Linked DNA regions of Homo sapiens. The protein of the gene in region 1 interacts with the protein of each later gene in a pairwise test. Each region holds a gene or a part of one and is shown in the gene's direction. Other genes may lie near its edges. The genes, in order: SLC10A2, EFNA5, UPK1B and C3orf52.

Region 1 (7,996 bases):
ACAGAGCCAACCCTTGCTAAAACGATGAAAGTGAACTAGCCATCCACCTACCCACCTCCTAGCCCTACCCCCCAACTTCTCCTCCCATCTCTACTCCCAGCCTTTATTCTCTCCTGACTTCTTCTCAAGTTTAGTGTCATTTCCTGCCTTCTCTAGGCATGGGCACAGACCACTCCCCAATCTCTTCTTATCAAATGTGTCAGGTTGATTTTTGTTTTTGTTTTTGTTTACTTTATATTGAAGTATTGGTACTTGTGACCCCTCCTAGTCTCTGATCTTCCATACTGCCAAGGTAACGACTATCCTAACTTCTAACACCATAGATTTGCTTTGCCTGTTTTTGTATGTGTTCTTTAGTTTCTGGTTTCTTTCACTCAACATTAGATTTGTGGTAGTAGATTACTCATCCAGCTGATGTATAGAAGTCCATCGTGTGAATATACCACAATATATTTACCTATTCTACCCTTGATGGACATTTGGATAGATTCCAGTTTGACGCTATTATGAATGGAGTCACTGTGAACATTCTAGTTCATGTCTCTTGGGGAACTTAATTTATAGATTTCTTTAGATTGAAACCTAGGACTGGAATGGCTGGGTCGGAGGGCATATGGACATTTAGCTATAATCATTTTCCAAAGTGGTGGGACCATCCTACAGATGTTTAATAAGGATTCACATTCATTCATAAAAACCTGAATAGTCTGCACAGTATTTTCAAAAGAAGCAGATCTAGAACCCAGTTCTGATTCCAAGCCTAGTGCATTTTCCATCCAGTAGATTCCAGGTTCTTCTATCCTACTTTCTTCTCCTCAATACTATGCTGCCTTTTCCCTCTAAAGACTCAAGAATGAATAGCTAGTCATTCACGGGGCATTCTCCCCAAGGTACTTGTTGCCTTAAAGAGGGTCAGTGGTAACTCCAAAGAGCTCTAATTGTGGGACTTTCAGGTTTCATAAAAGATCAATCTGTAGAAAGGAACTAGAGAGGAGAGAGAGGGAGATAACTTCAGTCACAGGAAAGTACTTAACAGAGTCAATCAAATCCAAGAGGGCCATTGATCTGAATAGAGCCATTTGTGATGAAACACAATAGAAGATAGGAAGCTCATCTTTTATCATGTGAACCTCAGGGCAAACATGCTAGAAAGCTATTGAACCCTGGCCTCCTCAAATTGATACACAGGAACAAAAGGGAAGCCTCAGATGTCAAATTCTCATGTCTGCGCCCAGGCGGCCAGAAGCAGGAACCGGCTCCTGGTTTCTTGAGGGTGGCCTGCATGTGAGCCCAGGGTGTGACAAAATGTAGCAGAAAAGACTGAGAAGGATGACGACGAAAATGAAGCTCCAGCCTCCTGACTACCCCTCTCAGGTGTGCATCTGTTTCCAATTCCGTATTACAATTAAAGAGAATGATTTTTTATTTTTTTTAATTTTATTATTATTTTACTTTAAGTTTTAGGGTACATGTGCACAATGTGCAGGTTAGTTACATATGTATACATGTGCCATGCTGGTGTGCTGCACCCATTAACTCGTCATTTAGCATTAGGTATATCTCCTAAAGCTATCCCTCCCCCCTCCCCCCACCCCACAACAGTCCCCAGAGTGTGATGTTCCCCTTCCTGTGTCCATGTGATCTCATTGTTCAATTCCCACCTATGAGTGAGAATATGCGGTGTTTGGTTTTTTGTTCTTGCGATAGTTTACTGAGAATGATGATTTCCAATTTCATCCACGTCCCTACAAAGGACATGAACTCATCATTTTGTATGGCTGCATAGTATTCCATGGTGTATATGTGCCACATTTTCTTAATCCAGTCTATCATTGTTGGACATTTGGGCTGGTTCCAAGTCTTTGCTATTGTGAATAGTGCTGCCATAAACTTACGTGTGTATGTGTCTTTATAGCAGCATGATTTATAGTCCTTTGGGTATATACCCAGTAAAATGGGATGGCTGGGTCAAATGGTATTTCTAGTTCTAGATCCCTGAGGAATCGCCACACTGACTTCCACAATGGTTGAACTAGTTTACAGTCCCACCAACAGTGTAAAAGTGTTCCTATTTCTCCACATCCTCTCCAGCACCTGTTGTTTCCTGAGAATGATTTTTATATATTTAGATACTTTCAGTGTCTGGATTTGAATATAGCTGAAGTTAAGGGTACTAATTAATTGTGAATCATTCCGATACTTGAATATAAAACCTCTCAAGCCTAATGTGCAAATTTATGTAAAAACAATGTGAAATTAGAAATGCATTGGCACTTTTTTTTAAGCAGAACTGTAGCACTCTGTCTAGTCAAACAGACTGCTCATTTGCAAGTTGTCTATATGCAAAGCATTCTGCCCCTGGGAGCCTAAAATCTCCTTAGAAAGTCATCTGAAATTTGAGAAGAGCTTTGTTCTGAACCTGCTTTCTGCTCCCTTCACTTTTCTTCCCTGCTTCCAGCACTGTGAGCAAAAAGCCTAAGTATGGATCACACCTGGCCAACCCAGAAGCAGCCATGGCCCAAAACAGGAGGCCTGCCCTGGGAAACCCATTTGAGTTCAAAGGAGGGTGTCTAAATATGCTTGTCTTGAGCCCTGTGCATTGGGCCTTGCACTGCAGCCTTCCAACTTTAAGAGAAATTTCAGAATCCAAATCCTTCCCGCCTGCAGGGCTCAAATTTTCCTTTGCAGATCAGACCTGGTGAAGAGGCTATTTGCCGTTCAATCCTAGGCTAGCTTTCTGCCTTTCACCTAATGTTTGAGGTTAAGAGAAATCAGAAAAGAGAGACCGTAAACTGATCACCACTGCATGGGCATCTGCCTCACCCACCTTTGGGAGTTGGGGGAAGAGCCAGCCACAGGTGCTCAGGTGCAGGTGCCCAGGTGTGAGCGGCTAGGTGCAGATGCTCAGGTGTGGCAGCAGGGAGTGCACTTGGCTCATCTGCCCTGGGGAGGGCCAGCTCCCGACAGAAGTAGGCCAGAGGTCAGTCCCAGGAAATGCTTGGAGCAGCCAGCAGGGTAGGGCCAAGTCATGATACACCTAGGAGTGGGAGGGGAGGCCTCTTTGGATATTACCTGGTTTATCATTTAGCTGTTGGGGTGGGGAAGGAGGTGGGAAAGACAGAAGGCTCTCCCAGGAATTGGCAGGCAGCCAGGTCAGGGACAATGGCAGCCCCCACTTGTGCTAGAAAGGCAGGCAGGACGTGACCACTCAGATAGCCACATCAACAAGTACAAATCACGGTTGCCCTGGAAGGAAATGGCTCAGGTTTTTCCCAGTAGCTCAATGCCTAGGCACCCCCACCTGTGGTTTGGGCATTTCACTCTATTAGCTCTTCTGCTCAGTGGCCCATTCTGCTAGCCACAGCTCACATTTACTCCAGTTATGAAAAAGGTTAATTTTCCCATATTGAGTTTCTCTGCAAAAGCTGCTTTCAGTTGTGACCGGTAAGTTCCGTTGTCACCAATATGGGTACAACTGTTGTCACTCTGCTATTCTGAAGCCATGATACTAAAAGTGTGACCCCAGATCAGTGTCATCGCCATCAACTACAAGCTTGCTAGAAAGAAAACTCTCCCTAGACTTCCAGAATCAGAATTTGCATTTTAACAAGGCCCCCAGGGGAATCCTGTTCACACTGAGTTTTGAGAAGCTCTGTTCTAAGATATTACTCCAATCCCCAGCAAGCCAAACCGACCACTTTCTTCACATAATCAGAACGCTCGGTTCCAGTATTTCCAGATACCAGCCATAGGAAAACACGTTGTTCTCTCATTTCCCTTTAACCTTATCTAAAGCACTCAATTTCCTCAACCCTTAAGTCGTCATCTGTAAAATGGGAGTGCTAATCCTACTTAATTTAAGATGATTAAGTTGAATAATAAATTAGAATTTGTCCTACAAATTGTGAATCATGATCGGAATATTCAATTTTATTATTACTCTGTGTCCTAACTCAATAACTGGGTTATAAACTCCTGAAAACAGGACAATCTCTTCTCTACCTCTTTCTTTATCTTCCCTGTATACTGAAATACAGCGTTCTGCCCAGCATGAGGTCGACTATTTGACATTTACAAAAATCTCTCTTGGAATCCCCCTGCCAAAAAAAAAAAAATCGAATTTCAATTTATGACTCCAAGCACAAAGAGATCCTGTCACTTTGACCTAATTCTCTGAGGTTCATCCCTCTAAATAATTGTATTGTCTCCATCTATAAAGTACTCTGTTACTATGACAACGCACACATAATTGCATGTGTAAGTAGTTGAGGGTGGCTGTGCAAGTCAGACTCCTTTCCACCAGGAAACACAGAAAACATTCTATCTTCCCAAATGTTACTCTCTCAGATTTGCACCAAGACCCTAGAAGTTTCTTAAATTTCCATATACTTTATGGACACTACAAAGCAATTCCAGGAAACACTGATACAGTAGCAAAACTACTGGGAGTGGAAATTGGATGGAGATCTGGGTCCCAGTTCAGAGTCTGACACCTGATTTGCAACATAATTAGGCACAGGGCACTCAACTATTCAGGGCCCTAAACCCTTCTATTGAAAGGGAAATGGGAGAACAATATGTGTTCCTATGGCTCAGTCCCTATAAGATTCTGTACTATTCAGAGTTGATTTTAAGTGTCACTTAACTGAAATTATCCAACAAACCTTCATGGCATGAAACATTAACACAGCTCTTTTTATATGGCATGGTTCCTATGGCTCAATCCCTATAAGATTCTGTACTATTCAGAGTTGATTTTAAAAGTCACTTAACTGAAATTATCCAACAAACCCTCGAGGACATTAAACATTAACGTGGCTCTTTTTATATGGCATGGTTCATTATCATGCCAATAAATGATTAATCGTAACTCTCTGTCTTGACCAATAATTTTGCTGGACTTTTGTGATTCACAACGTGCTCTGTGTTGTAATGCTACCTCTTGAAACTGACATCCTAGCTTTATTGTTTTTTATTACTTCCCTAAGGTGGCTTTCAAAAGAGACACCAAGTGACATATTTTTAGGAGGGGTTTAAAAGTTTGATGGGGTAGAAGTAAACGTTGCTTAACTCAACCAGCAGCAGAGCCAGGGCCCAGGGACCAGCGCTTCTGTGGACTTGGCCTTTCCAGCAGCAGACCCAGCAATGAATGATCCGAACAGCTGTGTGGACAATGCAACAGTTTGCTCTGGTGCATCCTGTGTGGTACCTGAGAGCAATTTCAATAACATCCTAAGTGTGGTCCTAAGTACGGTGCTGACCATCCTGTTGGCCTTGGTGATGTTCTCCATGGGATGCAACGTGGAAATCAAGAAATTTCTAGGGCACATAAAGCGGCCGTGGGGCATTTGTGTTGGCTTCCTCTGTCAGTTTGGAATCATGCCCCTCACAGGATTCATCCTGTCGGTGGCCTTTGACATCCTCCCGCTCCAGGCCGTAGTGGTGCTCATTATAGGATGCTGCCCTGGAGGAACTGCCTCCAATATCTTGGCCTATTGGGTCGATGGCGACATGGACCTGAGGTAAGATTATCTATACCTCTAACTACTGCAATCACCTTGGAGTAATCCTTCCAGAAGCCTATGGCATTCTGAATGTCCAACTGATTTGCCACGCATCTAAAGTATGACTAAGGAATCAAACAGGAGAGAATAAATGCATTCCCGTGCCTTCTAGCACAGCTGCTTAGCTATTGGAATTGGGGGATTTATATTTTGTGTTTGTGTTTTTAAATCTAACTCAGTTAACAGGGAGTTGCATAATTGCTGTTGATCTCTAGGAAAAGATTCAAAGCTTTTTTAAAAAAGTAATCTTTTCCAAACCACAAGCTGCAGCTGAGGAGGTTTATCCTGTTGGTAGCAGGAAAAAAAAAGCAAAATACACTTTCTTTGTAATGATGAGGAGCTCTGGGTGCAATCATAAAATAAAACTGTTTGTCAAACATTAGAACCTGTAGTGAGACAGTGGTCAACTCCATCAAATATAGCCAGTTCTTTGGGCAAACATTTTCCTGGTATAAAACCTAAGGAAGAATTTGTAAATTTGCTTCACCTCTACTGGCATTAAAAGTGGGGGAAAAAGCCTATAGCAGCTTTTTTAAAATTATGCTTACCTTACTACAAAATAAACAGAAAACGTTTTCTCCACTTCCTACAGAGTAATCTAAATTGCAATGTTTGCCCATTTCATCCCGTGCCAGTCTGAACTAGCACTGGAAAAAAAAACTAATAGAAATAAGATGAAGCATTAATGTGACTAGATTGAGAAATTTAATGCTAAAAGTTGAATAGACAAATGTCTTTTTCCTTAGCTCACAATTCCTCATTTCCCTTGAAAGGTATGCATTTCCTTCTGCAAACCATCCAGGTGCTAATGCAACGTGTGCTTATTAAATACTGTACAGTAGGCAATTAGCTCTGTTCATCCCCAGCTACTATTGGCAGAGGAGAGAAGCACAAAGTGTAGAATTGTAAACACTGGATTGATAGAGTACCCAGTGATCAATTAGGAACCTGCTGTCTCATTTCAACTGGTGCTGGTTTCTCCAGAAGCTTTAGAAAAGTCATACAAACCCTATACCTTCATATGGTTTAGTCTTTCACATAAGAAAACACATGATATCCACCTTGCAATTGCTTTTTTTTTTTTAAGGAAAGCCCTATAAAACAACATAGGATGGCAAGTGCTATTCAGGTTTAGTTAATCTGTGAACCACGATATAGCAATAAGGTCTTTTTAGACCTCAATTTAGTTTGACCTGGACACAGGTACACAGAAGTGAGAATTCTAAATGCCAGCACCTGTTACACTGAGAAAAGTGAACTACTTGGAACATTGGGCCTTGACCCCCAATAAACAGCTTTCTCATAATATTTGTAACTTTTAGTGCAGAGGAGTTTTGTACCTCAATGTAATACCACATATGGAACCCTTTTATAAGACAGAAAAAAAACGTGTGTGGTACTGGACTATTAGGTTGTTGAAATGAATTCTCTTCTGTGAGCTAAAAACAGTAAGATCTAACCTAAAAGCTCCAAGTTACATTTTTCTGTGGTTTTAAGGAAATCTTATTTCTCTTGAAACAGGAGATGATTATGTAATCCTGTCCACCTAGCATAACAATTCCTATAAATTATTTTTTTTAATAAGAACTAAAAGTAGAATATGAAGCTTTGGTAGAAACCTCCAGCTAAATCCGTGCAAATGAATCCTTCCAGCAAGTCAAAATAAGCCCTGTAACGCAACATGGAGCAACCTCACCTATCCAGAGCTCAACAAGACCCAATAAAAGACACTGCACACCCAAAATAAATTTCACTTAATCTCATAAATGCTCCTCATGCGGGACCGACTTAACTATTTTTATTTTAAAGTTCTGTTGTGCTATTTCCCAGAAATAAGAAGCGGGGAAGGAAGCAGAGTGTTAGGAAGGGCAAAAGAGAAGATCAAATGCCTGCAAAGCAAAGCAGACACTGACAACACACAGCCATCTCTCTATCATTTATCCTCTATCACTTATTCTCTCTATCACATATTCTCTCTTAATTATCAATTATTCTCTCTGGTTTCTGTAGCACTTATTCCAGTCTCTGGTCTCTGTATCACTTACTCTTCTACAAACACAAGAAGATGTCACGGTATTTTAGAACAACCGATAATCATGTTTATCATGATCGGTCTTAATCATTGAGAAGAGGTTAAATTATACTGCTATGTAAGATGATGACATTATGCATTGTGTGTTAGGAAAACAATATTCCAATATTTCTTTAATACAAATTAATTAAAAGGGTAAAACCTGAGCTATTGCGTAACAGTTTTCCAAAACTTTTTATTCTTCTGGATTAAGAACTGGATAACTAAAGTCTCCTGATAATTTACTTAGATACAATCCTATCTAACATTTATATTTCCAGTTGTGTACACTTAGAATTTTACCTTCTCCATCTCCACTTGAACTCCAGCAATGGCATGAAGACATGACTGTTTATGTTAA
Region 2 (7,026 bases), on another chromosome or scaffold:
TTAAAAATAAAAACTAACAGTTTTCCACAAACAATAGTAAGAAAATATTTCAGAAAATTTCCACGGGTTTAGTAAATTTTATAAATTCACTGTTGTGCAATTCCTTTTCCTGTATGTTATTTCATAAAGTAAGCTAGCCATGCTTTGTGTCTTTATATAGAACCTATCTGTTAAAATTTTGCTAAACTAGTAAGACTTCAATCTTTTGAAAAAAGAATAGAGGACTTTAATTGCAACTTAAATAATTTTTTTTATTTTTCCCTCAGAATATAATATGTTCAGTGGGCACGTTAAACTGATGATAATGTACACTGTGTCTAAACGAAGTAAATCTACTTTAGCTTATACTAACAGATTCAATTTGAAATTATGTTTAGGTAAAATCAGAATTAAATGTATCTTGATCACAGGGATTAAGTACAGTATCTTACTGTGTAACTTGTGTCACTTGTGTATCTGGTAGGAGTTTATCTTCTACATGGAGTTTCATTACTGCCTCTCCATTGATAAATGAGCATCTATAGATGTAGTTTCACGGGAAAAAATATTAAATTTATTTGCTGTCAGAATAGTTTTACTGTTACAATCTATGTACCCAGGTATTCACTTCTGAGAAGTGGATACTGAGTTTTCAAATGCTGATAACTTTTAGTTGGTAGTATTTATTGGATAGGGGACCAAACTGATTTTTTTATGTGTTGAATTGGCACAAATTTGTGAAATAGCCACTCAGAACTATCAGTTTGAATAGAAATATATGATAACATTTGCCTAAATAGATCTTCTATATTTCCAAAATTTGAAAACTTGTATAAGTTTTACCTAAAAGTGTAAATAATCAAATCATCCTTTTAATATTATTCTGAATTCTAAACTGGAATGTCACCAAGTAACTTTGAGTAATGAAAATCCACATCAAGAAGAATATAACTATTTGTCCTTAATTTCTTTAAGAATGTAAAAAGCTTTTAAATAAAGTTAAAAAGACTTCCAGTAATAAAAGTTTATTTACATTCTCCTTTAGTAGCTATGCTTATAAAGAGAGTCATAATACTAAGAACATGCCTCTTCATCTGAAGTATGCCATAAGCAGTTTGGTGCTTCTAATAAGAATATACTTTTAAACATCATGTGCGTATTCTAAGTTCTTCTTGGATTATTTTGACTATTTGCTGAAATGATATTAGGGTAATTAAACATATCTCCTACTGGTTGGCATTATTGATGCAATAGTCAAATAATACAGCAGCAAATATGACCAACACACTTTTAGGAATACCAGTCGTCCTCAACCTGGTGCTTTGCTTCTGTTAAGGTTTGAGTATCATCAATTTAAAAGGTTATACTCTTAAGAGGAAAATATCTGTGTAAGTCATGAAGGATTTACTAAACTTTAACCTAATCATGTTTTCTTTGGACTTTTTCAATTCTTGTAGGGACTTGTATATTAAACATTTCATATTAGAGTAGCAGGTAATTGACACCTTTTAGTTTTGTTAACACGTAATCTTGGAGTTGTGAAAGTAATGTGAATTCTAGGTCAACACTCCCAAGTCCTCTGGCAGTACAGGTCAAATGTATGTGGCTAAGAAGAGAGAAGTAGTAACATTTTTTTTTTCCTAATCATATTCCCTTGAGTATTTTTCTTCTTTCAAAATTTAGTTGCTCCATTTAAAAAAAATCTGAGCCATCATCATTTTGACATATGTATACCAGTATGCCGGCACTGTGACCTTTTCACTGACAAGTAAATGAAATCAGCATGGTTTAAATCTAAGAATTTGTTGTGAGTAAAGATTGAAAGTTTATCTTGGTCTTGAATGAGTTTCATCACAAAACTTAGATTGTCCTTACTTTTGAAATTTTAAATATTTTAAGTAATATTTTGTATGTTAGAAACATAAATGTTTTTCAAGTAAAAGGCATTAACTTTAAGCCTCAGTGTAACGTATCACATTATTAGATGTATTGGTAGTAATTTTGTTACTCTGAAATTTAGATCAGAATTTATGCAAGTACCAGGCTAAAAATAAGGCAGTATGATTGAGGTTTATAACCCATGTTTTTATGCTTATATGTTTATAAGAGACGTGAATTGACCCTCCCCCCTTTTTAATCTAGAAATTTGTAAAAGAGAAGTATGATTCCTGTTTTTTGGTGAGTTTTCCATAGAATTTTGAAAAGCAGAGTTAGCTACTAAGATATGTTCTACCTATTTGATTCATTATTTTATATATTCACAATAAACTATCAGAAATACTCAACTGTCTGATTTTTAGATGATAGGAACATTAGAGCTATTTGAGGCAGATTTGGCTATACAGTCTAATTTGGCATTTTCAGGGTAAGACCAAGGTCAGTAAACTACTAGTGATTAAAAGTATCAGAGTCTTCAGTAGTTTATTACTCTCTGTTAGGTGATTTTAGTGGTAATAACTAAACCATCAGCTCACTGAACTAATATCTTGTTGTCATGTGTGTTGTGGCTGACAGTAGCTTCAGAAGCTTCCACCTTTGAAGGCTGAGGATCAGGTTTGGAGGGAACACTTAGTTACTTGGGTGCAAATTAACCTTGTGAATTTCTTGCCATTTAATCTTGCAGAATACCTTCTGAACAGGCATTTCACTGCATTCTGTCCACTGGCCTGGTTTCCTGTTGGATAAGGACATAAAGATGGGCGCCTCCTTTTCTCCCCTGTTGCTATGAACCAAGCAAGCTACCAGCTTCACGCTGGGCCAAGAAAATGAATGAATACAATTAGTCCTTCAGGAGTTCTGGCCTTTGCTAGCTTGGGATAAGTATATGCCAGAAAATTTACCTTTGAGAGAGAGAAAGCATTAAAATAAAAATGAACAAAATATGAGAATATGTTAAGAATAGAATTTTACATGTTGGGTAGCATTTGGTCTAGTGGCTTATTGGTTTGTGTTTTCAATATAAATTTAAAAATTTTTTATAAGATACCACTCAACCTTCCTCATTTTTGTGCATGTGTTGAATAACTTCGGTAGCAATAAAGACTTAAAAAGCTGTGATATTTTGTTTGAAATAATGAACGACTCTGTGTTGACGATTCTATATTATCAATTTTCTTTTCAGAAGCAGTATACAAACTGTTAAAATAGCATTCCGGATTAGAATATCCATGTTGCAAAGGAAGCCTCAATTTCCCTAAGCACAGTGAGGAAGGTCCTTGCCTCTTACCCAGGACAACTCAGTCAGATCCGCTTTCTGAACTGAGGAAAAAAATTGCCCTTTGATCATTTGTGATGGATAACACCTTCATTTTCAGGTATAAAATCCTCAAAGAGGAGTATAAGAAATGAGGTATTAATATTCACTTTTAATAATTTGTCTTACGATGGTGGTCTTAGACAGCCAAACATCAATAAATTACTGTCTCTTTTAAGGGCCTGATTTATATTATCAAATTTATATTTTAGTCTGCTTTTCAACCTATGTCCTGAGCTGTTTTGTAGAAAAGTTTCTTGTGATTAATGTGAACTTCCAGTGCTTCTGAATAGGATATTACTCACTACTAGGAGATTTATTTCCTCTTAAATTTGTCTGCATTTATGTTTTCAAAATTTAGTCAGTCATAAAGGAGCACAATGACACAGGACCATCTAGCTTAAAATTAAAAATTAATCAAGTTTTTTCTGACTACAACTATTTTGCATGATCTTGAGTAAAATCATTCCTAATATCTTCATATTCTTGATAGTACTTTTTATTGTACTCTCTAAAGGATTTATTGTAAACTGAAATCCGTGTGCTATTTTCTAATTGAAAAATTTGAGTGGATGCAAATTCTTGTTTTTGAGGCTTCTGAATATAATTTTCAAACAGTAAACCATATAGTTCAATGAAAACATTATTTTAAAATATTGAAAACTCTTATTTAGGCTAGCTAGTTGCTGAGAGACAGTAGTGTACCACAGTGATGGTTAGCTCAGCTTTCATTCAGGTAGAATTCTATCATTTTCAATAAGGAAAAATAAACCTTTGTCATCTTTAGAAACATCCTTCATACAATTGACAGTTGACAGGTTGAAGAAAATGTTACTGTCAGGTCTTATTTTCCACTCAAGTGAGGAATAAAAATACGTTTGAATGATTTTTAAAAATCTATTTTAAAATTATTTCAAGATGGATAAAATGCTCTTAATTTTTATATGCATATCAGAATTGATCTTCCAGTTGCTTTAGGGAGGGTCAGCAAAGTGTAGCTCAAGGAGAGATCGTCTAACAGTAAAGTTCCTATGATTTTTACTTTTAAAAAGTCAAGTACAGTTGATTTGATTGTAATAGGATATTGCTGCAAGTTTTATGATTGGATTCTTAGGAGATATAAGATATAAATATTCTTTCTATTATAGCTTATCAAGTGACCTGATTTTCATGACTGATGATCACGATTCTGGTGTGAACTAAAAGTGGGAGTTTTGGCATATGCTCTGGACAGTCATATATGTTAGCAAATATGTATATGCCTTGGACAATCATGTTGTTAGTACACATTGATTAGACCTGTTTTAAAAATCGCTTTGCTATTAATGATTTAAAATAACCACGCAGTATAATATATGGATTACCATGTTGGAAACACATGAATACCTACTTAGAGATTAGAAAAAATATGATTAAGTGCTTATTTCCTGATTTAGAAAAGCTTGTTTTTTGGCTTTCAGTTAAATCAGCGTGTTTTTTTTCCCCCCTAGAAGCAGCCATCTTGTTTTAAGACCGATTTTATTTCTTTCGTGAAATTGGTTCGGAAATGAATATGGACGATAGAAAAGGACTAAACCACTTTATGATCATTTTGGCAGGGCTCTCTACATTTAAAGCGCTATCTTATTTGCGAACTTACTAAAATGCTATCTTCTTATATTTAGTTGACAGAAAAGGATGTTTTAACTTAGTAATAATATGCTTAAACCCAGGCATATTATATATTAATGTTAAATGTTGGGCTGTACCATGTTTCCATACATATTTTTTTCTCGAAGCTTATACTTTATGGCTAACTTCAAAGTGATATATTAATAGCCCCTATTGTCACCTCCACCCTCAAATCCTGATTTCATTTTTCTGACTATGCTAAGTAGTTCTTTTTATTTGTTGGTTGCCTTTTTTTTTTTTTTTTAATTACTCAAGTCTACCCGGAATCTTTCTCCCGCAAAAGGTACTGATAAGAGTATAGGTACCTCTAAATATGAAGCAGTTGGGGTTAAGATGCGTTATATTAAGTCAGAGCCTTTTTGTCTCTGAAATATAGGCTCTTCCTATCACATTAGAACAAATCTTTCTTGTGGGTTCTCATAGATTATTTTACAAGTAAATTCATATTTGTTACTAAAAATTATGAGAGTATATCAACTGACTGCTATATTTTCTGTCATGTTTTGTATTTCTGGATACATTTGGAAAACCAAGTGACCTAATAAACTTTACTAAAAATTTATACTATACTGCTTACTACTGCATGTGTTTGATGATGGCTGGGAACATTATTCTCATGTACTGCAGTAAAAGCAGAGCTTCCGTAAGATTAATTTCAAAAGTAACCTGACTTAGCCTGATTAAGCTGGGCACAGTGAAATATTACTTATGTCACTTATGAAAAACTGCTTCAGTTCATTAGAGGTAGGATTTTGGGTGGTTGTAGATGTAGTGTAAAGGCAATAAATGCATGTTTTAATAACAGATACATGTATCGCGGTTAAAGTTCAGGTACGAGTTGACCATTTTTGCGCAGAAAACTTTCCTCTGATATCTAGCATCTGTTTTTCTTTGGCTAGTGAGAAGACTAAAATAACTTGAATGTTCAAAGTGACCTTTTGTTTTTAAATGAACTAACAAATACCTTTTGTTTTTTTTCTTGCTGTTTCCAAGCTGTCAGAGTTTCCATTTTAAAATTTATTAATTATTTATATATGTAAAAACTATAATTAAGAATTAGCTCTTGCCTCTTTCCCTGGAAATTATAAAAGTAAATGAAAGTATTTTTATATGAAACAGGCAGTGTTGTGGTTTGAATTAAATGAGGTTATGGCATAGTTAGGTTGGATAATTATAGTGCAAATTGTTATCTAGGTTGTGATGATGACAGACATGATACTTGATGTTTTATATTTTGTAGATGTCAGTGGGATATACAACTTTGTTACATTTACTGAACTCAATAATGTATAGACAACTTCACGTGCTTACATTTTTAATAGTTTTTAATTTTATGGAGACAAATGAGAATGGGGGGAAAAGGAAAAAATAATTCTAAGTATGGGAAATTATCTTTTGTGTCTAACAATTAGGTTAAACAAAGTGGGAGCAAATGAGCCTAGTTCCCCTTCTATTGTTTCAGGGCAAGAAAATACAGACAGATGTCGGAATGTGGAAGCGGTGACCTCTGACTTGCACAGCATGGCCACTGCCCTGGCACACAAGTGTCCTGAGCCACCATCGTAGCAGGATGCGTTTTTGAAGTGACTGACACTTTGAGATGGAGATCTTGAAACTGATTCTGTAGCTATTTGCAGACCTCCAAAGTATCAGTCTTTTTAGTTTTCATTTTAAGTTTCTCACCTTACCATTTATGAAAATGTTTCTTTGGCTCAGACAGAGCTTTTGTGGCTTCCGGATGGCTTCTCTGTCCATATAGTCGCTATAAATCTTTGCCTCCCAATAATTTTATTCAACATGTTGGGATAATGGAGGCTAAGGGAAGCTCAGATGTATGGTTCTGCTGCAGCAAAGTGTTTGCCTGCTTTATTTAGCTAATACTTTTTTTTTCTTCTTCTTCTTCTTCTTTTTTTTTTTTTTAACAGACAGATGAAAGCAGTGGTTTTGTTAAAGGCCTTTTCTTTTAGCCTCTGCTCTGCAATCTCGCCAGTAACCCCTGGGTTCAGACAGACCATTAATGTTTTAGATACTGTGGCATTCAGTGCTTTCTTCATATATTTGTTTACTGTTACTGCTTCAATAAACTTTTACGCCTATTTCAGTAGTTTTCTGGCGGGAGCTCC
Region 3 (7,026 bases), on another chromosome or scaffold:
ACATTAATGTTCCATTCATTCTGTAAATGTTTATTACGTGTCTACTATGTGCCAAGCACTTGTTCTAGGTTCTAGAAATTCAACAGTGAACAACATAAAATCCCTGCCCTCATGGAGCTTGCATTCTAGCATGGGAGACAGAAAATAAACATGTTACCAAACAAATACATGATAAAATTCCAGGCCCAAATAGGCCATGAGCAGAAATAAGGCAGGGTGAGTATATAGAGTAGGATGGAGAAAGGGTCTTTTTCTCTGTCACTGTCAGGAAAGGCTTTGTTGAGATGATATTTGCAGAGGTTTGAATTAAGTGAGAAAATGAGACACCGGAAGATTGGGGAGGAAAGTTCTACAAGAAAGGAGTTGTGAGTGCAAAGGCCCTTAAGTGGGAGCAGGCCCAGCTTTTTGAAGGAGCATAAAGGAGATCAGTATGACAAAGTCAGAATGAGTGAAGGATGAGTAGATGACAAGGATGGAGCTAGATTTTTTGTGGCTGGAGTCCCCCACCCCCACCCTCACACACAAATTATAGGGAAGGATCCTTCTTAGGAAAAACAATAAAAATATGCATACAAAATTAGGCACAGGGCCTTGAAAGGGTCTTGCAAGTAAGGGGCCCTGAAGCTTAAGCTCATTCGCTTTATAGAGAAACCTCCTCTGGTAGTGGAAGATGGGGTGAGAGGCAGAGCCGCATGGTCCATGGAACCAGCCCTGGTTATTGCATTTCCTAGGCATTCCCTTTGGTTCCCAGAGCTTTGGTAGAGGCTGCTCAGATGGCAGCTCTAGCCTTACATGCGTGTATCACTCCAGAACTTTGCACAGTGACTAGGATAGAGTGCGCCATGTATAAATACTTACTGGATTGTGGCATGCATGAATGGATGATTTGGTGAATAAAAAAATTATTCCTTTGCATGCTCACTGTGACCCTTCAAGGTCTCACTAGAATCCAGTAAAGATATGTTGAAATATAACATCAAATGAGAATTCAGGGAGCATAATGCAGGAGTTCCTTTAATGATTATTAAAAATGGCAACAGGGGACCTCTGGTTTTCATGGACAGAAGCATTTTTATTCAAAAACAAACAAATCAAAAAGTAACTGCCTCCAAATAAATCACCAACGAAGCCTTTGGGGAGGGAAAAATTCTAATTGAATTAAGATTTTTGAATTTATTGTCCACATATTCAGTATAGAAAGAGGGTTATGCTAAAATAGCAGTACTTTTTAGTGAGATTAAGTGATAAAGACACAAATAAATGTGTTGTGGAATCATTGTTCAACAGTATTGTTTATGTTCCCTTAGTAAAGCACTATTAGTAGCTGGCTGTCCTCAGAGATGTGGAAATAGCCTGGATATGTGAAATCAGAATTTTGAGTAGCATTGATTCCAATAGGAACCTGCTTTCCCATCAATCTCTTCTCTGCTTTCTGGTTCTTCTCACACTAATGTGGAATTGCCCACTCCTTCAGGGCTGCTATGAACTGATCTCTGGTCCAATGAACCGACACGCCTGGGGGGTTGCCTGGTTTGGATTTGCCATTCTCTGCTGGACTGTGAGTATTTCCCAGCACATATTTTATCTGAGAGGATGATCATACGGAGAGACCTTGAGAGTGCCACTGGTTACCTCAACCACACTAGAAAGTCTAGAAACAAAACCTCAGGCCTGAAGGCTAGTCAGGAAACTTCTGGCACCGGAAGAAGGACAGTGGGTTCTCTTGAGAGGCAAGGAGTTAACTTCCCCTACCAGGGAAAGGCTGTGCCCTGCCAACCAGCTCCTTCTTCCGGCTGATGGGCAGCTGCCTTTAGAGGGCTGGAGAGCCTCTTTCCCTTGCCAGAGTTCTTAGTGAACTGCTCCTCCTGGTCTCCAGATCTCATTAATTCATTTCATCCACATATCAAAGACTGTCACCTATCTAGATGGCCCCTGCCTGATACTAATATGCCCAGATCCTTCTAAAGAGCTGCCTCTGGCAGATTCATCCTTTCCTACTGCCCACTTTATCTGACGCATATGCAGCAAGAGGTTGGAGCGGTGGTTCTCAGCCCTGGCTACACATTAAAACGCCATGGGGAAACTTTTTTTAAAAATTGCTTGGATCCCAACCTCTGAGACTTCGATTTAGTTGACCTGGGGGTTGAGCCAAGGCACTTTTATTTCCCCCAGATGATCTGCTGTCAGGGTTGACAACCATTGCCTTAGAGAAGCAGTCACAAACTTTTGATTTCAGAACCCCTTTACACTCTCAAAAATTATTGAGGACTCCAGAAAGCTTTTCTCTATGTGGCCTATATCTATTGGCATTTACCCCATTGGAAATTAACATAGAAAAATTTAAAATATTTATTTTAAAATAATAAGCCCATTAAAAGTTATCACAACACATTTTTGTGGAAAAACAACTATTTTATAATAGTGACTTTTTTGCAAATCTCTTCAATGACTAGCTAAATAGAAGACAGTTAGATTCTCATATTTGCACCTTCATTCAATCTGTTGTAATATGTTGCCTAGGTTGAATGATCTGGAGAAAATGCATCCTTCATATAGACATGTAATTAAAAAAATAGTGCTTTAATAATATTCACCCAGTAGCTGGGACCACAGGTGCACACCATTGTGCCTGGCTAATTTTTTTATTTCTTGTAGAGACAGGATCTTACTTTGTTGCCTAGGTTGGTCTTGAACTCCTGGCCTCAAGCAATCCTCCCACCCTGGCCTCCCAAAACACTGGGATTATGGCCATGAGCACTGCACCCAGCCCACAAGTAGTAGCTTCTTAAAGATCAGTTGCAATTTGGAATCTGAAATTCTGTTAATGAGCTTTTCATACTCTGTTATGTTAAAATATATTACATTGGTTTGTCTTGCACTTTGCATATATCTTTCAGCCATTTATAATTCTATAACATCATAGATTGCTTATTTGGAAAAAATATTAGTTCATTGTGTTATGCAGATCTTCCAAATGTTAACTGATTTATGTATGCAATATCCAGAAAATCACATGTGGCATTGATATTGCCACATGGAAAATACCTTAAGCAATGGAATGCTATCAAGTTCACGGTGACAACTACAAGTTTTCCAAGGTTCTGATTTTTGCTTGAAAGTTCAAATTTATCATTGGCAATGAATATTGTCAGTTGTTTTCCTTGAAGTGACAGACTCACTTTGTAAATTTTCAAGAAAATATCTGCCACATGTCCAAGTCCAAACAACCATAGCGTGTCTGTTCATCATTTTTTAAAGTAAAAGTGGTGTTTCCTTTTAATCATGCAAGTGCTTTTAAGACAACCATATTACACTATGCAACAGACTGTTTTATGAATGAATACTTCCTTTCTGTCATGCAGAATATTTAAAAAGATGTGTACTCAAAGGCCAAAATGTAATAAAATTAGTAGTTCTTACTGCTTCATTGAGGACAATCTCAAGTGAAACTGGCTTTTTAAATTTTTTTTTTTTACTGCAAGTGCGTAGCAGTGAAGACACAATGATCACTAACAAAGTTTAGTGACTCTGCCTTGATTCTTGCTAATACTCCAGGAGTTTTACTTCCCACTGCATTTACACCATCAGTGCAAATATGAAAACAGTGAAAAAGGCAAATAAATTCTCATTGTTATTCAGATAGCCTTACATAATGGACTTCTGAACTGTCCCTCAGGTGTTTACTATGTGTATTAGTCCATTTTCATAGTGCTATGAAGAAATACCCAAAACTGCATAATTTATAAAGCAAAAGAGGTTTAATAGACTTACAGTTCCACATGGCTGGGGAGGACTCACAATCATGGCAGAAGGCGAAGTAGGAGCAAAGGCATGTCTTACATGACGGCAGGCAACACAGCGTGTGCAGGGGAACTGCCCTTTATAAAGCCATCAGATCTCATGAGACTTATTCCCTATCACGAGAACGGCACAGAAAAAAACCCGGTCGCATGATTCAATTATTTCCCATCGAGTCCCTCCCATGACATGTGGGGATTATAGGAGCTACAATTCAAGATGAGATTTGAGTGGGGACACAGCTAAACCATATCACTATGCTTTAAGAAATGCTAGCTTAGGGGGTGATAAACTGAGTGAGGCAGGAAGGAGAGGGAAATCAACTCCTTCAAGGGGTCTTTTATGATCCCTCAACCCAACCTGTTAGGAGCTCTCACAACATCCTGAGCACACCTCTATGATGGAACTTCTCCATGATGATGTATTTGACTGCAAAAAGCTGAGAACTAGCTGTTCTTTGTACCCCCAGTGCCAAGCATAGCATGTAGTAAGGGCTCAAGCATTTGTTGAATGAATGAAAGGTAACAGTGAAGTTTCTATTTGTGCCATATTAGCAGGAACTGTGGGATAATGTTTAAAGGCTTTGAGTATCTTAGAACTCCAAACCAGTTGTAACCCTTGATTTTCCACAAGTATCAAATAAACTCTAGATCTAGTTAATTCCCTCTTGAAATTCAAAAGAGGGAAGGGAAGGGAAGGGAATTAAATGATTAAATGTATTGAGGGCCTGCTATAAACAAGGTACCATGTCAAATATTTTTAATATTAAATCCCCACAACAGTAGCTAAGCAGGTAGCCAGTGTCCTGTCTTACAAGGAGCAGAGAAATTCAGTGGGGCTCTCAAGAATTGTGCTTAATAAGAGCTCTTAAGCATGCCCATTTCACTGTTGCTTGCAAGGGGCTTTTTCTTAGTGATTAACTAGATAAGCTCTGAAGCTGACTGCTTGGGTTTGAATCCCACCTCCACCACCTACTAGTTCTATGACCTTGGGTAAGTTACTTCTCTGTGCCTCCGTTTCTCCATAGGGTTTTGGAAGCATTAACTTCAGTTATATGGGTAACACTTAGAATAGTGAGTGATGCATAATAAGGTATTCTAATAAACATTAGACCCTGTTATTATTTCATTATCTCATTCACTGCTCTAGCTTGGGGTAGGTAGAGATGTTATATTTATTTTATAAATGTAGAAACTGAAGCTCAGGAAATTTAAGTGACTTGGCTAAAGTTACCCAGGAGTAAGTACCAGATCTAAAACAGAGCCCAAATAAACTAAAATAAAACTCAGCCCTTGCCTAAGTCAGATATCTTGAGTTCTGTGGCATTCTTCAGAGGCAGCCATTCCAGGGCACAAGCATTTTAGGAAAAAATAGAAGTTCCCTGGGAGAAGTTTAATACTAGAAGCAAGGAATGCTTACCCCGAAATGGTACATACTAGAAACAGGAAGGCATTGGAGGATAAGTGGCCTTGATGGCAAAAAGAGTTTAGCACAGACGAGAAGGGCAACCCCAGAAGACAAGGAATCTAGGATGAGAACTGGGATCAGAACGTGGGGAACACAGAAGTTGCTTCTGAGTGGCAGGTAATAAGTGATGCTTTGGAGCAGGATGGATTTGGTGTCACATCTGGCCCAGTGATGTTGCTTATAACGAGATTACTCTTAAAAATCTGATATCTAGGCCAGGCGTGGTGGCTCACGCCTGTAATCCCAGCACTTTGGGAGGCCGAGACGGGCAAATCACGAGGTCAGGAGATCGAGACCATCCTGGCTAACACGGTGAAACCCCGTCTCTACTAAAAATACAAAAATTAGCCGGGCATGGTGGCGCGTGCCTGTAGTCCCAGCTACACAGGAGGCTGAGGCAGGAGAATGGCGTGAACCCGGGAGGCGGAGCTTGCAGTGAGTCAAGATCGCGCCACTGCACTCCAGCCTGGGCGACAGAGCGAAACTCCGTCTCAAAAAAAAAAAAAAAAAAAAAAAAAAAATCTGATATCTAACAAAGACATGGAACCAACCCAAATGCCCATCAGCAATAGACTGGATAAAGAAAATGTGGTCCATGCACACTATGGAATACTATGCAGCCATAAAAAGGAATGAGATCATGTTTTTGCAGGGACATGGATGAAGCTGGAAGTCATCATCCTCAGCAAACTAACACAGGAACAGGAAGCCAGACACTGCATGTTCCCTCTCATAAGTGGGAGTTGAACAATGAGAACACATGGACAAAGGGAGGGGAACAACACACACCAGGGCCTGCTGAGGGGTGAGGAGTGAGGAGAAGGGAACTTAGAGGATGGGTCAACAGGTGCAGCAAACCACCATGGCACACGTACATCTGTGTAACAAACCTGCACGTTCTGTACATGTATCCTGTTTTTGTTTTGGTTTTTTAGAAGAAATAAAAACAAACAAACAAAAAAATCTGTTGTCACCTAAGCCTGAATGAACCTAACATCCACTTTTTCCAAGAATGAGATGTTTCTAAAACAATCCCTTGTTTATTTTTCCTTGTTTTTTTCTATTCCAGTTTTGGGTTCTCCTGGGTACCATGTTCTACTGGAGCAGAATTGAATATTAAGCATAAAGTGTTGCCACCATACCTCCTTCCCCGAGTGACTCTGGATTTGGTGCTGGAACCAGCTCTCTCCTAATATTCCACGTTTGTGCCCCACACTAACGTGTGTGTCTTACATTGCCAAGTCAGATGGTACGGACTTCCTTTAGGATCTCAGGCTTCTGCAGTTCTCATGACTCCTACTTTTCATCCTAGTCTAGCATTCTGCAACATTTATATAGACTGTTGAAAGGAGAATTTGAAAAATGCATAATAACTACTTCCATCCCTGCTTATTTTTAATTTGGGAAAATAAATACATTCGAAGGAACCTGTGTTATCACAGTAACCCAGAGCTGTATTTGGCTAGCAATCTGCCTGTATCTCTCACTATTATCTAAAAGAAACCTTCCAATGCTTCTGTTGATCTCAGTATTGTCAGGGGAACAGAGAAGTTGGGAAAAGATTACTGAAATATACCTTTTGCATTTCTTTCTAGAGTAGCTCCCATATATGGAGATGGGTGATTCTCTTGATGCCACCTTCAGATCCTTTTATTCTCCAGAATAATTCTTAACAGTGGTTCAAATTTCCTTTCATACCTTGAAGTATGTGTTTAGTAGCCTCAATTCTCCATTAATTAAAAGTGTGGGCTGGGCGTGGGG
Region 4 (7,026 bases), on another chromosome or scaffold:
AAAAAATAAGTAAATATCTTTACTGTAGTGCAAAGCCAGAGGGAAGATTCCTGGCCTCCAGCTGCATAAATGCTGGAGGACACTGTTCTTTTTACTCCCTTAGGTCCTACATTTAATTCAACCTATAGTATTCATTGAGGGTCTGTGATGTGCTAGACAGCATGCCAAGTGCCAGGGCCACATTGTCTGTGCCTTCAGGGGTCTCACAGTCCAAGTACAGGAAGTGACTAAAAAGATCGTTTTATAATAGTGTGGTATGTTCTAGTGTGTTGTACAGTGGCAAAGGAGGGGCATCTGAGCTACCTCAGGTGAAGATGAAGGCATGAAAGGCCTGTTAAGTGAAGTGATGCTCAGGATGAGTTTTGAAATGAGGTAGGAATGTTCTAAATAAAAAAGCATGGGACATTAAAGGATCTGCAAAGTAGTGTACTGTGGCCTTCCCATGCTTTGTGGTGACAGCTGGCAGAGATAAGGCTAAAAAGGAAGGCAGGCGTCAGGTCATGAAGGCTTTCCCACTCTTCAATAAGGCACCAAAATATTTTAATCAGCAGATTGACACAGTTAGATTTTTCCTTTTAGCCTTTCTGTGTTTTGGTGGAGAAAGCCAGGAGGAAGAGATCAGTTAGAAGGTGTTACAATAGTCCAGGTGAGAAATGAGGGAGACTTGAACTAGGGCAGTGTCGGGAAAATAAGGAAGATTTGCGTGAGATTTAAGAGGTATTCTCACTCAATAAGAGTCCATGACTGATTGGGTGGTGGTGAGGAGAGCATGACTCCAAGCTCCAGTTGAGTGATTGGGCAGATGGATGGCGGTGTCAGTCATGGGATGAGAAACCCAGGAGAATGAACCCTCTGTGGAAGATGGAAGCTCTGCAGCCAGACTAGGACCGTTGGGTGGGGCATCCTGATCATCCTGTCAAAGACAAGGTGGTTCACAGCCAGACCCAGAAATTTTGATAAGAAAATCTAGGCAAGAGCAGGCTGCCCTCCATTAAATTCTTCTCTGCCATTGCTAGGTTGAATGGAGTGAGTGCTGTTTATCTAACTTCCATTCGATTTGATTCCTACAAAAGCTCCTGAAGAGGCGATTCCATCCAGGTCACATCAGAATCAGTTTCTGGGTACCCACGCATGAGATTTCATTGCTTCTTTTATCACAGGAGTTGGTATCCTGTGATGATTACTCCAGATTTCTCTTTCTCCTTCTCTTCATTTATATCTTTAAATTTTTTTTAGATTGTTTAAATTTATTTATTTATTTTTATTTTTTATTTCCGTAGGTTTTGGGGGACCAGGTGGTATTTGGTTACATGAATAAGTTCTTTGGTGGTGATTTCTGAGATTTTGGTGCACCCATTACCCGAGCAGTGTACACTGTGCCCAATTTGTAGTCTTTTATCCCTCACCCCCACCACCTTTTCCATCAAGTCCTTGAAGTCTCTTCATTTATGTCTTATCTTCACCTCCTTTTCTCCTTTCCTTCCACCTGCTTCCTGGGGCAAGTTGCTGAGTGAGACGCTTCTTGCTACTTTCCTCTTGGCTGCTTTTTTAATGGAGAGGTTTTTGCATTTGCTGAGCAGAAATAAGATGAGTCAGCATCCACATGTGTCACCTGTTGCATAGTAGACTGTCTATTTCAAAGGTAAATGAATGTTCATTTTTCATTTTACAACCATATATCTTGCACAGAGTCAGATATGAGGAAATTCTGCGGGTATTTTGAGCTCATCACTAGGTAGTGGCAAAAGAACAGGGACTGACATTGATGCCTGTGGTGGGTCCACAGATTTCTTTGAGCCAGTTTCTTCGCTGATAAATGGAAACCAGTGCACTTTCTCTGTGTATCTCAGGTGCAAATGAGATTACATAAAAATAACTTGAAAAACATTTTAAAAGAATTATCTTATTTACAAATGATCAAAGTAAGGCATAGTGAGGTGACAGATTCCTGCCCTTCATTCGTCAACCAAATATGCTCAGGAACAAAAATTAGCACCTAAAGGTATTGCTGTCTTATTGTCAGGTCAATAACTCCTTTCTTCCATTAGGTCAAGTTTCAGAAGTTTCTGGATATAAAAGGTAAATGGAAGTGGGTATTTGTGGGGGAAAAATTATTTTTTTCTCTATACCCACATTCAATGCAGAACACTTCTTTGGCCGTGTGTGTGTGTGTGTGTGTGTGTGTGTGTGTTTTCCACACCAACCAATTATCTGCCACCAGCTGGGTGTCTTGCAATCCAGTTCAATTCTGACATGATCTGCCTGGAGTTAGTGCAGACCCCATAGTTTAAGGGTTCAGCCCCACAAAACTTCCCTCATTTAAGATGCCAGTTACGGGAGGCTGAGGCAGGCGAATGGTGTGAACCCGGCAGGCAGAGCTTGCAGTGAGCCGAGACCGTGCCACTGCACTCCAGCCTGGGCAACAGAGCGAGACTTAGTCTCCAAAAAAAAAAAAAAAAAAAGATGCCAGTTCAGTTACAAGTCTAGGTTGTCACTTGTGCTTCTGACCAACCAGCTGCAAATTGGAGGTCTCCAAAACCCCCACCTTGGGTTTGGTCATTTGCTAGAATGGCTCACAGAGCTCAGGGAAGCATCACATTTATGGGCACACTGTAGAAAATAGAGGATATCAAAAGCCAGATAAAAAGGTACATAGGGCGGACACGTGGGACAGAATGTGGGCATCCATGTCCTTTCAGGTGTGCCACTCTCCCTTGTAAATGTGTTCAGCCACCTGGGAGCTCTCCAGACTCTGTCTTTTAGGGATTTTTATGGAGATTTCCTCACATAGGCATGGTGGATTATTAGCTTGCTTTCCAGCCTCTCTCCCCTCTGGAGGATGGGGGTGGAGGTGGGGCCAAAAGCTTCAGATTTCTTCTTCTTCTTTTTTTTTTCTCCAGACAGTTTTCACTATATTGCCTAGGCTGATATCAAGCTCCTGGCCTCAAGCGATTCTCCCTGCTCAGTCTCCCGAGTAGCTGGGACTACACGCATGCACCATCCCACTCCACCACACTGGCTGAAAGTTCCAAGCTTCTAGCTGCGGCTTGGTCTTTCTGATGATCAGCCCCCATCCAGCAGCCCGCCAAGAGTTGCCTCATCAGAAATAAAGACACTCCTATAACCCAGGAAACTGCAAGAGATTTAGGAGCAGGTCTGTGTCAGGAGCTGGAGTAAAGACCAAATGTTAGAGTAAAAGATGTACCCGGCGCCCCTGTCACTCAGGAAGTAACAAGGGTTTTAGGAATTCTGTGCCAGGAACTGGGGCAGAGACTAAACAGTATACATATTGTTATTATATCACAGTATTGGAACTTTATGCCCTTTCCCTTGACTTTTCTAAACACAGGCCCTGCCATGTGTCACTGCCACAGTGTTTTCCTCTCAGGGTTGGGGCCATTACTCTGCTTAAGCCAGCCTGTGTGACTACCACACCCTGTGCATGGGTTAGGAGTTAATGATGGCACCTGCCTTATTCTGGAAGCTGGTCTCTAATTAGCCACTGCATCAGACTCAGCTAATCAATTCGCTGAGCTCCTTGCTCAGTTTGCACCAAGCCTCATAGACATTGTGTGGGAGACACAAGACTAAGGGTTGAGGAACCACCCTATTTCACTTCTTTGGGCCCAAAGTGGACAGTGTGACTAACAGCTCCCCAAATGTAAATATGTCCTAAGTACAGCAGAGGAGCATGATCAAAAAGAATCTTCGAGTGAACACTAAAAATGATTTAGTCGACCACTCCATATGTTACCTTAAAATTTTAACTTAAAAATTTGCTGAAAGCCTGTTATGTGCAAAACACTGTGCTGGGCCCTAAAGATTAATAAAGGAAAGAAGGGAAGGAGGAAGCAGAGAAGACTGGAAGGAAGGATAAATATCACCTTTGCCATAGGAAGCTCAATCCAAAAGGAAGAGAAAGACATGAGTGCTTGACATTAGTGCTTGAAAAGATTCTCCTCTGCAGCATCCTCATCCTCCTCTCCATCACAGCATCCCCGTGAAAGCTGCTTTCCTAGTTCCCGAGTTTTCTAAATGACTGTCAGCCTATCGGCAACATCCTGTGCATTGGGGCTTAAGAGCTGTACAATGACTCAGTCATTTTCTCCGAAAGTTTTTGTCACTTTAAGCTTCTTTCCTCCTTGATATTCAGGAGACACTTTCCTTCACTGTATATATATCAATTTCTTCTTCACTGGGTAGTGTGGTCAGATGGGAAGAAGCTGGTTTTTAGTGTTCATAACATGTAGGATTGAATTTTGGCTTCTCCTTTTACTAGCACAGTGACCTGGGACAGGTTTTCTTCATCTCATGGAATGGAGTGCTGTTTAATTTTCCAGTAAAAAGGGGAGATATATTAATGCCTGTTTTGCCAGGTTTTTATAAAGATCACAACAGTAGTGACAAGATTAGAAGAGCAGAAATAGCAGGCACTCTCATCTTTTGTTCTCTTTGAGATATGGGTTGTACATGTTGAGTTAAATGGGAGTGTATTGTGGAAGTGCAGCGTCCTTGACATTCCATTTGGAGTTGAGGGGAAACAGGGTAAGCTCCCCATAGGGCACTGCTGTTTTTTGTATGTTCGACTGCTTGTTATTGAATAAAGTAATAGGTCATTAAGCCATAATGGCTGTAGCTGGGGATGGCACATGTTCCTAGTACTACTAGTTTAGGATTCAGATATCTGAAACACAACTACTCAATGCCTGGGAAAAGATACTTGTAACATAATATCAACAACTAGTATCCAGAATATAAAACTAACCACTTCAGATAGATAAGAAAAAGACAGATAAGCCAAGAGAAGGAAAGGAAATGAGTGAGAAATTCAGAGATGAAAAGTCCCAAAGAGTTAATAAACATGAAAAGATGTTCAACCTCACTAGTAAGCGAGGCAGTACAAATTAAAACAATGTGAAGCACTATTTTATACTCCTCGGAGTGGTAAAAATTTAAGTTTGGTAACACTAAGTGCTGGTAAGGATGTGGGAAATGGATATTTATACATTGCTGGGAGGGGTGGGAAAGGGAGAACAATTTTGTGAAGTTGGAGATGCACCTACCCTTAAACCCAACAATTCCTTTTCTTGGCATATGCCCATTGGAAACTCCCGCATGTCCAAGAAGAGATGCATGGAGACATTAAGGATGATTGCTTCAGCATAAGTTGTGATGGGGAAAATTGAGAATAGTGCATGTGATCATCATCAGAGGAATGGATAGGCTGGTATACTCATTTAAAGGAATCTGTGCAGGAGTTAGGTGAATGCCTTTCATTGAGATTTACTTTATGGGTAAATCTTAAATGTAATTTTGAGTGAAAAAAGGCAAGTTTTAGAAGATTATGTAGAATATGGTGCCTTTTATTTGAATAAAAACACAAATTATATTTTGTTATGATTACATAAATAAGTAGTAATTTGTAAAAATATGCAAGGAAAGGATGCATGCCAGCTTCAGAATGATGGTTAGTATTAAGAAAGAGAGAGAGGAGGAACTGAATAGTATGTAGGAGTCACTTTAGCTTTATTTTGTTTCTTAAATTAAAGGGCTGAACCCAATATAGCAAATATGAAGACATGAAAGCTAGGTAGTGGAAACACAGGTGTCATTATTTTTTATGATGCTTGCAATATTTCATGCATAAAATAAAGCCTCCATATTTTTGCAGTTCCCCTCTTTGTCTCTTTGTCCAGGGGATGTGCTAGACCCATGGCTTAGCATGGCTGTTTGTCTTTACACTGAAGCTCTGGAGAAGGGAGAAAGAAGCCCTGGGCTAAGCAATGTCCCAGGTGCTAAGTGGTCTGTGCTGCTGCTGTCCAGCAGCCATTTTGGGGTCTTCTCTTCTCTCCTTCCTATGGTCTGTGAGGCCTGTGTGGGCTCCAGCTGCTGATATTCTCACCACTAAGGCCACAGGGTGCCAGTGCAACTTCTGAGAGAAACTGAGTCATTTGGTCCTTATAAATGGAGTTCTTTTGAAGTAGCATTAACTTGAGTTTTGATTTATGGTGGGCTCAATTCTTGATCCAGAGCTTCCAGATAACGTTGATTCCAGGCTGGAGTGGAATCTCCTCTGCCTTAGAAGCAGTTTTGCTTTGTCAGGTGATGTGTAATATGATCTGTCGGTAATGTGTGTGGTTTAATTTGCTTCTGTTTGTTTAGCTCACAGATGTGTACAGTACATCGCCCTCTCTGGGTCGTTATTTTACTTCAGTTGAAATAGTGGACTTCAGGTAAGAGTGTGGAACATTACATTTTGCTCTCTTTCTCTGGAAAGAGATCCCCCCACCCCACCCTTCGTCATTTACCTAGCAGGGATTCCCAGAGCCTCAGAGCATGAAGGGAACCTGTAATAGAATCACAGAATGTCAGTGCTGGGAAGGTCTTTTACACCAACAGGCTCAACTCCCTTATTTTACAAATGAGAAAAAGGAAGCCCAGATTAATGGTATAATTCAACCAGGGTCACACAGAAGAGGGGAAAAGCCAGTCCCAGGTAAACCATTTCTGTTTAACAATGAATGCTCAAATAAGCTAAGGGTAGAAGTAGAAATAGATCTCAGGTCGTGCTGTGATGCGAGTGATACATGTATAGGCATTTGCTTTTGAGGAGCACAAGTAATACAGGAGTACATTCTCCTTGTTTAGTATTAAAGATGTAAAGAGGGGCCGGGCGTGGTAGCTCACGCCTGTAATCCCAGCACTTTGCGAGGCCAAGGCGGGCAGATCACTTGAGGTCAGGAGTTCAAGACTAGCCTGGCCAACGTGGTGAAACCCTGTCTCAACTAAAAATACAAAAATTAGCCAGGTGTGTTGGTGGGTGCCTCTAATCCCAGCTACTCAGGAGGCTGAGGCAGGAGAATCTCTTGAATTCGGGAGGGGAGGTTGCAGTGAGCCGAGATTGCGCCACTGCACTCCAGCCTGAGTGACAGAGTGAGACTCTGTCAAAAAAATAAAAATAAATAAAAATAAAAAAAAGAAGACATAAAGAGGTATGCACAGGAAAAGTCTCCCTTCTGCCTCCTT

What was found.
Region 2: the proteins of SLC10A2 (region 1) and EFNA5 interact in binary tests that used the Homo sapiens proteins (3 or more experiments, as listed by UniProt).
Region 3: the proteins of SLC10A2 (region 1) and UPK1B interact in binary tests that used the Homo sapiens proteins (3 or more experiments, as listed by UniProt).
Region 4: the proteins of SLC10A2 (region 1) and C3orf52 interact in binary tests that used the Homo sapiens proteins (3 or more experiments, as listed by UniProt).

Annotation. Positions count from the first base shown.
Region 1 is NC_000013.11:103,063,399-103,071,394, reverse strand, and holds the start of SLC10A2 (ileal sodium/bile acid cotransporter), read left to right. Parts: upstream 1-4,977; 5' UTR 4,978-5,145; coding exon 5,146-5,522; intron 5,523-7,996. UniProt on the Homo sapiens protein: Plays a critical role in the sodium-dependent reabsorption of bile acids from the lumen of the small intestine. Transports various bile acids, unconjugated or conjugated, such as cholate and taurocholate.
Region 2 is NC_000005.10:107,660,912-107,667,937, reverse strand, and holds part of EFNA5 (ephrin-A5 isoform 1 precursor), read left to right. Parts: intron 1-7,026. UniProt on the Homo sapiens protein: Cell surface GPI-bound ligand for Eph receptors, a family of receptor tyrosine kinases which are crucial for migration, repulsion and adhesion during neuronal, vascular and epithelial development.
Region 3 is NC_000003.12:119,197,583-119,204,608, forward strand, and holds part of UPK1B (uroplakin-1b), read left to right. Parts: intron 1-1,474; coding exon 1,475-1,558; intron 1,559-6,334; coding exon 6,335-6,385; 3' UTR 6,386-7,026. UniProt on the Homo sapiens protein: Component of the asymmetric unit membrane (AUM); a highly specialized biomembrane elaborated by terminally differentiated urothelial cells.
Region 4 is NC_000003.12:112,103,381-112,110,406, forward strand, and holds part of C3orf52 (TPA-induced transmembrane protein), read left to right. Parts: intron 1-6,162; coding exon 6,163-6,233; intron 6,234-7,026. UniProt on the Homo sapiens protein: Has a role in LIPH-mediated synthesis of 2-acyl lysophosphatidic acid (LPA). LPA is a bioactive lipid mediator involved in different biological processes, and necessary to promote hair formation and growth.